Homo sapiens: one gene and its partner. The protein of the gene in region 1 purifies or fractionates together with the protein of each later gene. This does not show direct contact. Each region holds a gene or a part of one and is shown in the gene's direction. Other genes may lie near its edges.

Evidence for each region. Proteins that work in one complex are often made in the same cells at the same time.
Region 2: the proteins of AAGAB (region 1) and TSKS purify together in Homo sapiens (affinity purification with mass spectrometry; one large-scale study listed by BioGRID and IntAct). This does not show direct contact.

Annotation. Positions count from the first base shown.
Region 1 is NC_000015.10:67,251,862-67,255,933, reverse strand, and holds the start of AAGAB (alpha- and gamma-adaptin-binding protein p34), read left to right. Parts: upstream 1-1,272; 5' UTR 1,273-1,302; coding exon 1,303-1,375; exon of another isoform or gene 1,376-1,520; intron 1,521-4,072. Other genes in the region: IQCH (IQ domain-containing protein H), read right to left, coding at 987-1,037. UniProt on the Homo sapiens protein: May be involved in endocytic recycling of growth factor receptors such as EGFR.
Region 2 is NC_000019.10:49,755,739-49,761,210, reverse strand, and holds part of TSKS (testis-specific serine kinase substrate), read left to right. Parts: intron 1-3,331; exon of another isoform or gene 3,332-4,056; intron 4,057-5,472. UniProt on the Homo sapiens protein: May play a role in testicular physiology, most probably in the process of spermatogenesis or spermatid development.

The DNA of each region.
Region 1 (4,072 bases):
TAAACTCATTGCTGCGTGATGGTGAAAGTGAGGGTGAGAAAAGATCAGGTAAGATTAGGTATGATTCTTAATGGGGAAGTCTATGAAATTGGTGAGTTCAGGGGCTTGTATTTGGGAAAAGGTACATTTAGGGAAGTCTCTCCTAGATGGGAGGTAAGAGATCAAAATTCTGCCAGAAAAATTAGATCCCTTTGACGAGTAAGACCCACTTCAGACCAACTGAGTGACAGTCCTGACAGAGTGACCTTAGACAAATGACTTCAAGACTTAGTCAAATGCAGCTATTATATATGTGATAGTTAAAACCGATGATATATGTGGAAATATCTTAAAGTTACCTCACATAAATGTGAAAACAAAATGCCATGATCATTTCAGAAACATCTGAGTGCAACTATTACAAATTGAGCTGTATTGGACAAGACTTTCTTGACATTTCCCCTCTCAAATTAAAAAGGTCTTTCACTAAGTTTTTAAATGTCACATTTTTTCATTCCAAGTTATCTTGATTTTTCTGTGTGTTCTCCAATGAGGAACATTTAGATCTAAAAAACTGGGGTGTTTAAGAAAAGCAATTCACATATTTCAATTTGTCTCCAAATTTCTTATCACCTCCTAGAGTGTCCGATTTGTCTCTCCTCCACTCCCGACGTCATGGGTTCAAATTTTTCAGAATATAACATTTAAAAATGATGCCTCAGCGTGAGGTTAATTTTTCTGAAGTAAAGGTTCCGGGTGAACGGTTTTAGAGTTTTCCCAGAGGCAGAAAGTCCTGCTTCTGGGGCGTAACCTACAGGGTAAGTCACCGGGAGTGTGCTGGGCCGTGGGGGAAGGTCTGGGTGGGCATTTTTGGGAGCCTCTCGCGAGTTGGAGGGAGTCTAGGGGCGGCGCACCAAATGGGTGAGCGTCGGTGAATCGGCGCGCGGGACCTCGCTCGGAAGTGGCGCGGCTGGGCAGGGCAGGGCCGGGGGAAGCCCGTTTCCCACCTGGATTAAGATGGATCCGACAGGGTCGTGGTTTTCAGTGTTCTGTGCCATGGCTAGGTCAGGGAACGGCTACCTCCGCGGAGGCGCGGTTTCCAAGCACGGAAACCTTCAGCCGGAGCCGCTCGTCCCCATGGCAACACCGCGCGCGACCTGGCCTGTTCCACGCTGGGAGCGGAAGGGGGTCTAGGGGCGGGGTCAGGCCAGCCTGGTCATTCCGAGAACGCCCTCTCCGGCCTGTCTCCCCCTCGCGCCGGCGGCCGTGGTGCAGCCCAAGGCGGAAGCGGCTGCCTGACGGAACCGGCTCGCGAGCGCAGCTATGGCTGCTGGCGTACCCTGTGCGTTAGTCACCAGCTGCTCCTCCGTCTTCTCAGGAGACCAGCTGGTCCAACGTGAGTAGATAGGCGCCTGGGCCGACCTCCAAGGCCCCTGAGCCTCAGCGGGCGACGGACCCAGCACCACGGCCTCTCTGGGCCTTGTCCCCGCAGCGGGCCCTGCGTTCTTCCTCCAGTCAGTGGAGGCGCCCAGTCTCCCCAGGTGGCTGCCCCTATCTCTTAATCTCGTGCTTTTCTGCCCACTCGGCCTTCTTCGGCGTTCCTTTCGGCTTCCTGTGTAAAGTGAGACTGATTTCCCGCTCTGCTCAGCCCAGGCCACAGGTTTTTGCGAGGATCCGTTGAGATGAACCTGAAGGCTCTCCGGAAATTGCGCTAGGTTACAGGAGTGTAAGGTGCTGGAATTGTTGATATCGTGATGTTGTTATCCTTGCTGCTCCGGGAGAGAGTGTTTACTCTGAATTCTGAAGTTTATTCTGCGTATTTACTCTGAAGTTTATTCTGCTTCTTAATGTGTACATTATAAGACTTGTTAGCTTTGTCCGCTCCACTCTAGTTATTCACGCCTTTCATCTGAGGCATGGGCTCTCCGCCAACATGAGTTTTTGGGTATGATTGGGCTAGTGCTTTTGCTTGTAGACCCTCATAATGGCTGTCAGACTTACTAACTCTTAAAAGAGAGAACATGGGACTGGATAATAAGCCAACTCTACTAAAGGGCTCTGTGAAGTTGAATTATAGGTAACTCAAGACTTCTGTTTTAAGTGTATGGCTTAGAATCAGAGCAGTGACTTAGCTGTATGATCTCGAGCAAGTCACCTAACCTACCTACATTCCTTCCTTCTTTTCTTTTTTTTTTTTTAAAGAGACGGGAACTTGCTCTGTCGCCCGGGCTGGAGTGCAGTGATGCGATCATAGCTCACTTCAGCCTCGAACTCCTGGGCTCAAGCGATCCTCCTGCCTCAGTCTCCCGAGCAACTGGGACTGCAGGCTCACACCACGAACCCTGGCTAATTTTTTTATTTTTTGTAGAGCCAGAGTCTTGCTATGTTGCTCAGGCTGGTCTCCAACTCGTGGTTTCAAGTGATCCTCCTGTCTTGGCCGCCCTAAGTGCTGAGATTACAGGCGTGAGCCACTGTGCCTGGCTACCCTTCACTTTCTCTTTTCTCTCCTTTTTTTTATTTTTGTTTTGAGATAGGGTCTCACTCTGCTGCCCAGGCTGTAGTGCAGTGGCGTTATCTCGGCTCACTGCAACCTCTGCCTCCTGGGCTCAAGCCATCCCCCTACCTCAGCCTCCCAAGTATCTGGGACTACAGGTGTGTGCCACCACGCCCGGCTAATTGCCCCCCCCCCCCCCCGTCATACGGGGTTTGGCCATGTTGCCCAGGCTGGTCTGGAACTCCCGGGCTCAAGTGATCTGCCTGCCTTTGCCACCCAAAGTGCTGGGATTACAGGTGTGAGTCACCACCGCGCCCGGCCCCTTCACCTTCTATCTATAAAATAGGGATAATTTTCGCAAGATTGTGCTTATCCCCGAGTCTGGCACATAGTAAACATTTGATAAATCATAGACATTATTATTAAGGCACATTACTATCTCTGTAACCCTCAATTTCCTGATCCTTAAAATGGGGCATATGAGCCTATTTCAGGAGTATTTGAAGGACAGATGATGTGACATTTTGAACACACTTTGTAAACTGTAAAGCATTGTATAATTATAATTTCTTTGCTACACCTGTCAAATGACAGAATTAGGTAAGATGTCCCTTCAGTGCAGATATTATATGACTTAGTTATCATTTGTGATCACTTAGAAAGTTCCTTGCTAGGGTAAAAGCTTAATTATAGCATTTAACTAAGTGGTTACTAACTGGTCTAATTAGGCCATTTTCTTACCTTTAAGCAGTGCTCCTTCCTATTTTCTCCCTTCCCTCCTTTCTTCCTTCTTTTCTTCCTTCCTTCCTCTTTTTTCTTTAATTGTTTCATTGTAAAACTAGTGCATACTAAGTAAAATTTAGCATACAGAGAAAAGAAAATAGCCATAGTCTCATTACCCAACTACAAATACTGCTAACATTTCTTTCCAGTCTTTTTTTCCATTGCAGTTTCTTAAAAAGAAATAATTGTAATTACATTTAATACACAATTTTTTCTGTTTTTAAAAATTTTTTAAATACACAGTTCTTATCCTCAGATTTATCAAAAATTAGTTTCTCACATATATCCATCTAGTGAATAAACCAGAATTTGCTCAAGATTCTTAAAGATGTAACTAACTTTCCAAAAGACTTACATGCATTAGGAATCCTATTAGCGATACATGGAAGTCTTTTCAAGACAATCTCAGGAATATTAATTATTCTAAATGCTATGGTGCTCTGTTGTGTGCTTTAATGATCCCAATCGGCAAACATGGTCCCTGCCTTGAAGTAGCTGATTACCTGTAGTTAGCAAATAGTAACATTGTACTTCTGTAAAGTGTATTAGCATTATTGGGGGTAAAATTAATTCTGTAAAATAATCCATTTTATCTCTGTATATAAAATGCTCTTAGATAATTCCAGTTCGGGTTAAGATCAGATGACCTTTCCATTGCAACTCGTTACTGTCGTGTAGTAAAAAATAAAAGAAGAACAGCTAGTGAGCAGATTACTTGAATAAGGAAAAGTGAACCATAAAAGAGGGCTTATAATTTCTTCCAAGGTTGTGAATAGGGTAGCAGTGGATAGCGTTAAAATGAAGTATTTGCTGAGC
Region 2 (5,472 bases), on another chromosome or scaffold:
GCTGATAAGATTCACTAGCACTTTCTATGTTCAGGGAGCCCTGGTTTCCTCATCTGTAAAACGGAGATGCATACATTCGTTCCTTTATTTTTAAATTTTATTTATTTATTTATTTATTGAGACAGAGTTTCGCTCTTGTTGCCCAGGCTGGAGTGCAATGGCGTGATCTTGGCTCACAGCAACCTCTGCTTCCCGGCCGGGTTCAAGCCATTCTCCTGCCTCAGCCTCCCGAGTAGCTGGGACTACAGGCATGTGCCACCACACCCAGCTAATTTTGTATTTTTAGTAGAAACAGGGTTTCTCCATGTTGGTCAGGCTGGTCTCGAACTCCGGACCTCAGGTGATCTGCCCACCTCGGCCTCCCAAAGTGCTGAGATTACAGGCGTGAGCCACCACGCCCAGCTTTTGTTTATTTATTTTTAAGGCAGGGTCTTGCTCTGTCTCCCAGGCTGGAGTGCAGTGGCACAATCACAACTCACTGCAGCCTCGAACTCCTGGGTTCAAAGGATCCTCCCATCTCAGCCTTCTGAGTAGCTGGGACCACAGGCACACACCTGGCTGATTAAAAAAAAATTTTTTGTAGGCCAGGCGCAGTGACCTATAATCTCAGCACTTTGGGAGGCCGAGGCGGGTGGATCATGAGGTCAGGAGTTCGAGACCAGTCTGGCCAATATGGTGAAACCCCGTCTCTACTAAAAATACAAAAATTAGCTGGGCCTGATGGTGTGTGCCTGTGGTGGTGGGCGCCTGTAGTCCCAGCTACTGTGGAGGCTGAGGCAGGAGAATTGCTTGAACCCGGGAGGCGGAGGTTGCAGTGAGCCGAGATCACGCCACTGCACTCCAGCCTGGGCGACACAGCGAGAGTCTGTCAAAAAAAAAATAATAACAATAATAATAATTTTTGTAGAGACAGGGTCTCACAATGTTGTGCAATCTGGTCTTAAACTCAAGCAATTTTTGGGCCTCAGCCTCCCAAAGTGCTGGGATTACAGGAGTGCAACACCATGCCCAGCCACATTTATTCTTTTTAACAAATATCTCTTTTCCTTTCTTTATTTTTTGAGATGGAGTCTCACTCTGTAGCCAGGCTGGAGTACAGTGGTGCGATCTTGGCTCACTGCAAACTCCACCTCTTGGGTTCAAGTGATTCTCCCACCTCAGCCTTCCAAGTAGCTGGGATTACAAGAGCGCCACCACACCTGACTAATTTTTGTATTTTTAGTAGAGATGGGGTTTCACCATGTTGGCCAGGCTGGTCTCGAACTCCTGACCTCAGATGACCGCCCACCTCAGCCTCCCAAAGTGCTAGGATTACGGGCATGAACCACCGCACCTGGCCTCTCTTTTTCTTTCTTTTTATTTTATTTTATTTTTTTGAGACAGGGTCTCACTCTATTGCCCAGGCTGGAGTGCACTGGCATGATAATAGCTCACTGCAACCTCAAACCCTTGGGCTTAAGCGATCTTTCCACCTTGACCTCCCAAGTAGCTGGGACTGCAGGTGTACACCACCGTGCCCAGCTAAACAAATTTTTTTCTTTCTTTCGGTTTTTTTTTTTTTTTGAGACTGGGTCTTGTTCTGTTGCCCAGGCTGGAGTGACAGCATGACAGTCCAGGCACAATCTTGGCTCACTGTAGCCTTGGCCTCCCCAGGCCCAGGTGATCCTCCCACCTCAGCCTCCCGAGTAGCTGTAACTACAGGCACATGCCACACACCCAGGTAATTTTTTTTTTTTTTTTTTGGAAATGGAGTCTCGCTCTGTTGCCAGGCTGCAGTGCAGTGGTGTGATCTCAGCTCACTGCAACCTCCACCTCCCAGGTTCAAGCCATTCTTCTGCCTCAGCCTCCCGAGTAGCTGGGACTACAGGTGTGTGCCACCACGCCCGGCTAATTTTTGTATTTTTAGTAGAGACGGGGTTTCACCATGTTGGCCAGGATGGTCTTGATCTCTTGACCTTGTCATCTGCCTGCCTCAGCCTCCCAAACTGCTGGGATTACAGGCATGAGCCACCGCTCCCGGCTTCACCCAGCTAATTTTTTAAAAAAATATTTGAGGCCGGGCTTCGTGGCTCATGCCTGTAATCCCAGCACTTTGGGAGGCTGAGGCAGGCAGATCACCTGAGGTCGGTAATTCCAGACCAGGCTGATCAACATGGAGAAACCCCATCTCTACTAAAAATATACAATTAGCCGGACGTGGTGGCACATGCCTGTAATCCCAGCTATGTGGGAGGCTGAGGCAGAAGAATCGCTTGAACCTGGGAGGCAGAGGTTGCAGTGAACCGAAATCGTGCCATTGCACTCCAGCCTGGGCAACAAGAGCAAAACTCCGTCTCAAAAAAAAAAAAGAAACAACTAAGGTAGACAGTGGTGTAGTAACCTCCACAAGGTCAAGGTTGGAGGGGTTGTAAGAAGCAGGACCAAGACAAGAAGGCTGCTGCTTTTGTCACTAATGCAAAAGGGCTTTCTCTCCCCAAGACTCCCTTGGGCTGAGTGGGGGATGTTTGGAGGGGAGAGACTGAGGCAGGGAGGCCAGAGGGGAGCCTGGGCGAGGGTCCAGGGAAGGAGGAGGAGCTGCAGAGAACAGGGCAAAGAGTCTGGGCTGGGAAGGATGTCTGGGAGACATCTCCTCCCTCAGACAGAAGAGCTCTCCGCCCTGTCTTGGGGAGTGTCCCTCAGGCAGCACTTGCAGCCGTTTGCCTCCCACCAGAGCTATTTCTGAGTCACATCCCCCACTGGATCGTGAAGCCTGAGAAAGTACCCCAGGCAGCCAGGATCAAGGTCTGACACAGCTGCCAGCTCGCTGTGGGGCTGCAGGGGAGTGTCGGCCTCTAACGGGCTTCAAGTTCCTTCTCTGTGAAATGGAAAAAGTAATGACCTTGGGGTGCCTGCTGGAGAGGTGAGGGGGGCAGCAGGAGCTGGAACCAGCACCCAGCACCTGAGCTGCATCCAGAGAGAAGGCGGGGACAGGCAGAGAGAAGGACACAGAGACCCAGAGAGAGAGGGAGACAGAGACCCAGAGAGAGAGAGGGGAACAGAGACCCAGAGAGAGGGGAAGGGAGACCAGGGAGAGGGGGACAGAGACCCAGAGAGTGGGGGACAGAGACCAAGAGAGAGGAGGACAGAGACCCAGAGAGAGAGGAGGACAGAGACCCAGAGACAGAGGGGGGCACATGCCTGTAATCCCAGCTACTCGGGAGGCTGAGGCAGGAGAATCGCTTGAACTCGGGAGGTGGAGGTTGCAGAGAGCCGAGATCGTGCCACTGCACTCCAGCCTGGTGACAGAGTGAGACTCTATCTCAAAAAAAAAAAAAAAAAAAGAAGACAGAGACCTAAAGAGTAGAAAGGCAGAGACTCAGGAAAAATAAGTCAGAGACTCTGAGATTTGGGGGACAGAGCTGAATCAGGGTGAGACAGAAGACCAGAAATAGAGGAGGGGGATAGAGACCCAGAGAGAGAAGGAACAGACACAGGGGCTGGGTGGGGACAGAGAACTGGAAAGAGGGGGACAGAGAACCAGGCGGTGATGGAGACCCTGGTTGAGAGAGTGTCAGTTTCCAGGTAGGAGGAAGGACAATGGGAACCCTGTGAAGGTAGTTGTTAGTTATATCTCCATTTCACAGGTAGGGAAGCAGAGGCACAGAGAGGTGAAGTCCTCTCCATGAGGTCATACGGCTAGTAACTGGGAGAAATTAGTTGGCCCTAGGTCCTGTTGCCTTGGTTTCCAGAACAATTACCCACAGGAAACCCAAGACCTTCTGAGTCTTCAGGTTAGAAAGACACTTTGTGTAATGCTTTCTATTGCTGTGAAACCAATTACACCAAAACTTCAAACAACAAACTTGGAGGGGCTCAGCTGGGTGGGCCTGGCTCAGGGCGTCTCACGAGGTTGCAAACAAGATTTTGGCTGGGGCTGCAGTCACCTGAAGGTTGGACTGGGGCCAGAGGTTGTGCTACCAAAATGGGGCACTCACCTGCCCTTGGCTGGAGGCCTCAATTCCTTGCTACATGGGCCTCTTCATAGGTGGCTGCTTATGACATTGAGGCTATCGTTCCCTAGATGAAGAGAGAGCAAATAAGAAACAGTTCCTCTTATGAAGTAGTCTCTTACCTCACATATCATCAATTCTACTTTATTCTATTTTTTTATTTTTTGAGACAGAGTCTCTGTCACCTAGGCTGGAGTGCAGTGGCGCAATCTCGGCTTACTGCAGCCTGTGCCTCTCAGGTTCAAGCAATTGTCTTGCCTTAGCCTCCTGAGTAGCTGGCATTACAGGTGTGCACCACCATGCCCAGCTAATTTTTGTATTTTTTGTAGAAACAGGGTTTCACCATGTTGGCCAGGCTGGTCCTGAACTCCTGACCTCAGGTGATCCACCTGCCTCGGCCTCCCAAAGTGCTGGGATTACAAGCATGAGCCACCACAACTAGCCTGCCTTATTCTATTTCCTGGGTGTGAGTCACCAAGTCCAGCTCATACTCAAGTGAGGCAAATAAGGCTCCACGTTTTAAAGGAATGTGAAAGAATTTATGGACATATTTTAAACTATCACATTTTGTGGGATTTTTGTAGCTGCCCTTTATTGGGATGAGGAAGTTCCTTTCTTCCTTTCTATTTCTAGTTTGTGGAGTGTTTTTTTTTTTTTAATCATGAGTGGTATTTTGTCAAAAGCTTTTTCTCAACTGACATGATCATGTGTTTTTTTTCCCTTTTATTCTATTAATATGGTATGTAACATTTATTTGTTTTTAGAGACAGAGTCTTGCTCCATTGCCCAGGTTGGAGTGCAATGGTGCCATCATAGCTCACTGCAGCCTCAACCTCCTGGGCTCAAACAGTCCTCCCACCTCAGCATCCCAAGGAGCTGAGACCACAAGCACATGCCACTGTACCCAGATAATTTTTAAATTTTTTGGTAGAGATGGAGTCTCACTATGTTGACCTGGCTGGTCTAGAATTTCTGGCCTCAGGTGATCCTCCTGTCTCAGCTTCTCAAATTGCTGGGATGAGCCACCATGCCCAGTCATTGGTTGATTTTAGTATGTTGAACCAACCTTGCATTCCTGGGATAATTCCCAGTTGGTCACCATGTATAATCCTTTTTACATGCTGTTGGATTTGGTTTGCTAGTATTTCGTTGATGATTTTTGTGACCATATTCATAAAGGATATTGGTCTGTGGTTTTCTTTCTTTCTTTTCTTTTTTTTTGAGATGGAGTCTCGCTCTGTCGCCCACACTAGAATGCAATGGCACGATCTCGGCTCACTGCAACCTCCGCCTCCCAGGTTCAAGCGATTCTCCTGCCTCAGCCTCCCAAGTAGCTGGGACTACAGGTGCCTACCACCGCGCCAGGCTAATTTTTGCATTTTTAGTAGAGACAGGGTTTCACCATCTTGGCCAGGCTGGTTTCAAACTCCTAACCTCATAATCCACCCACTTTGGCCTCCCAAAGTGCTGGGATTACAGGCAT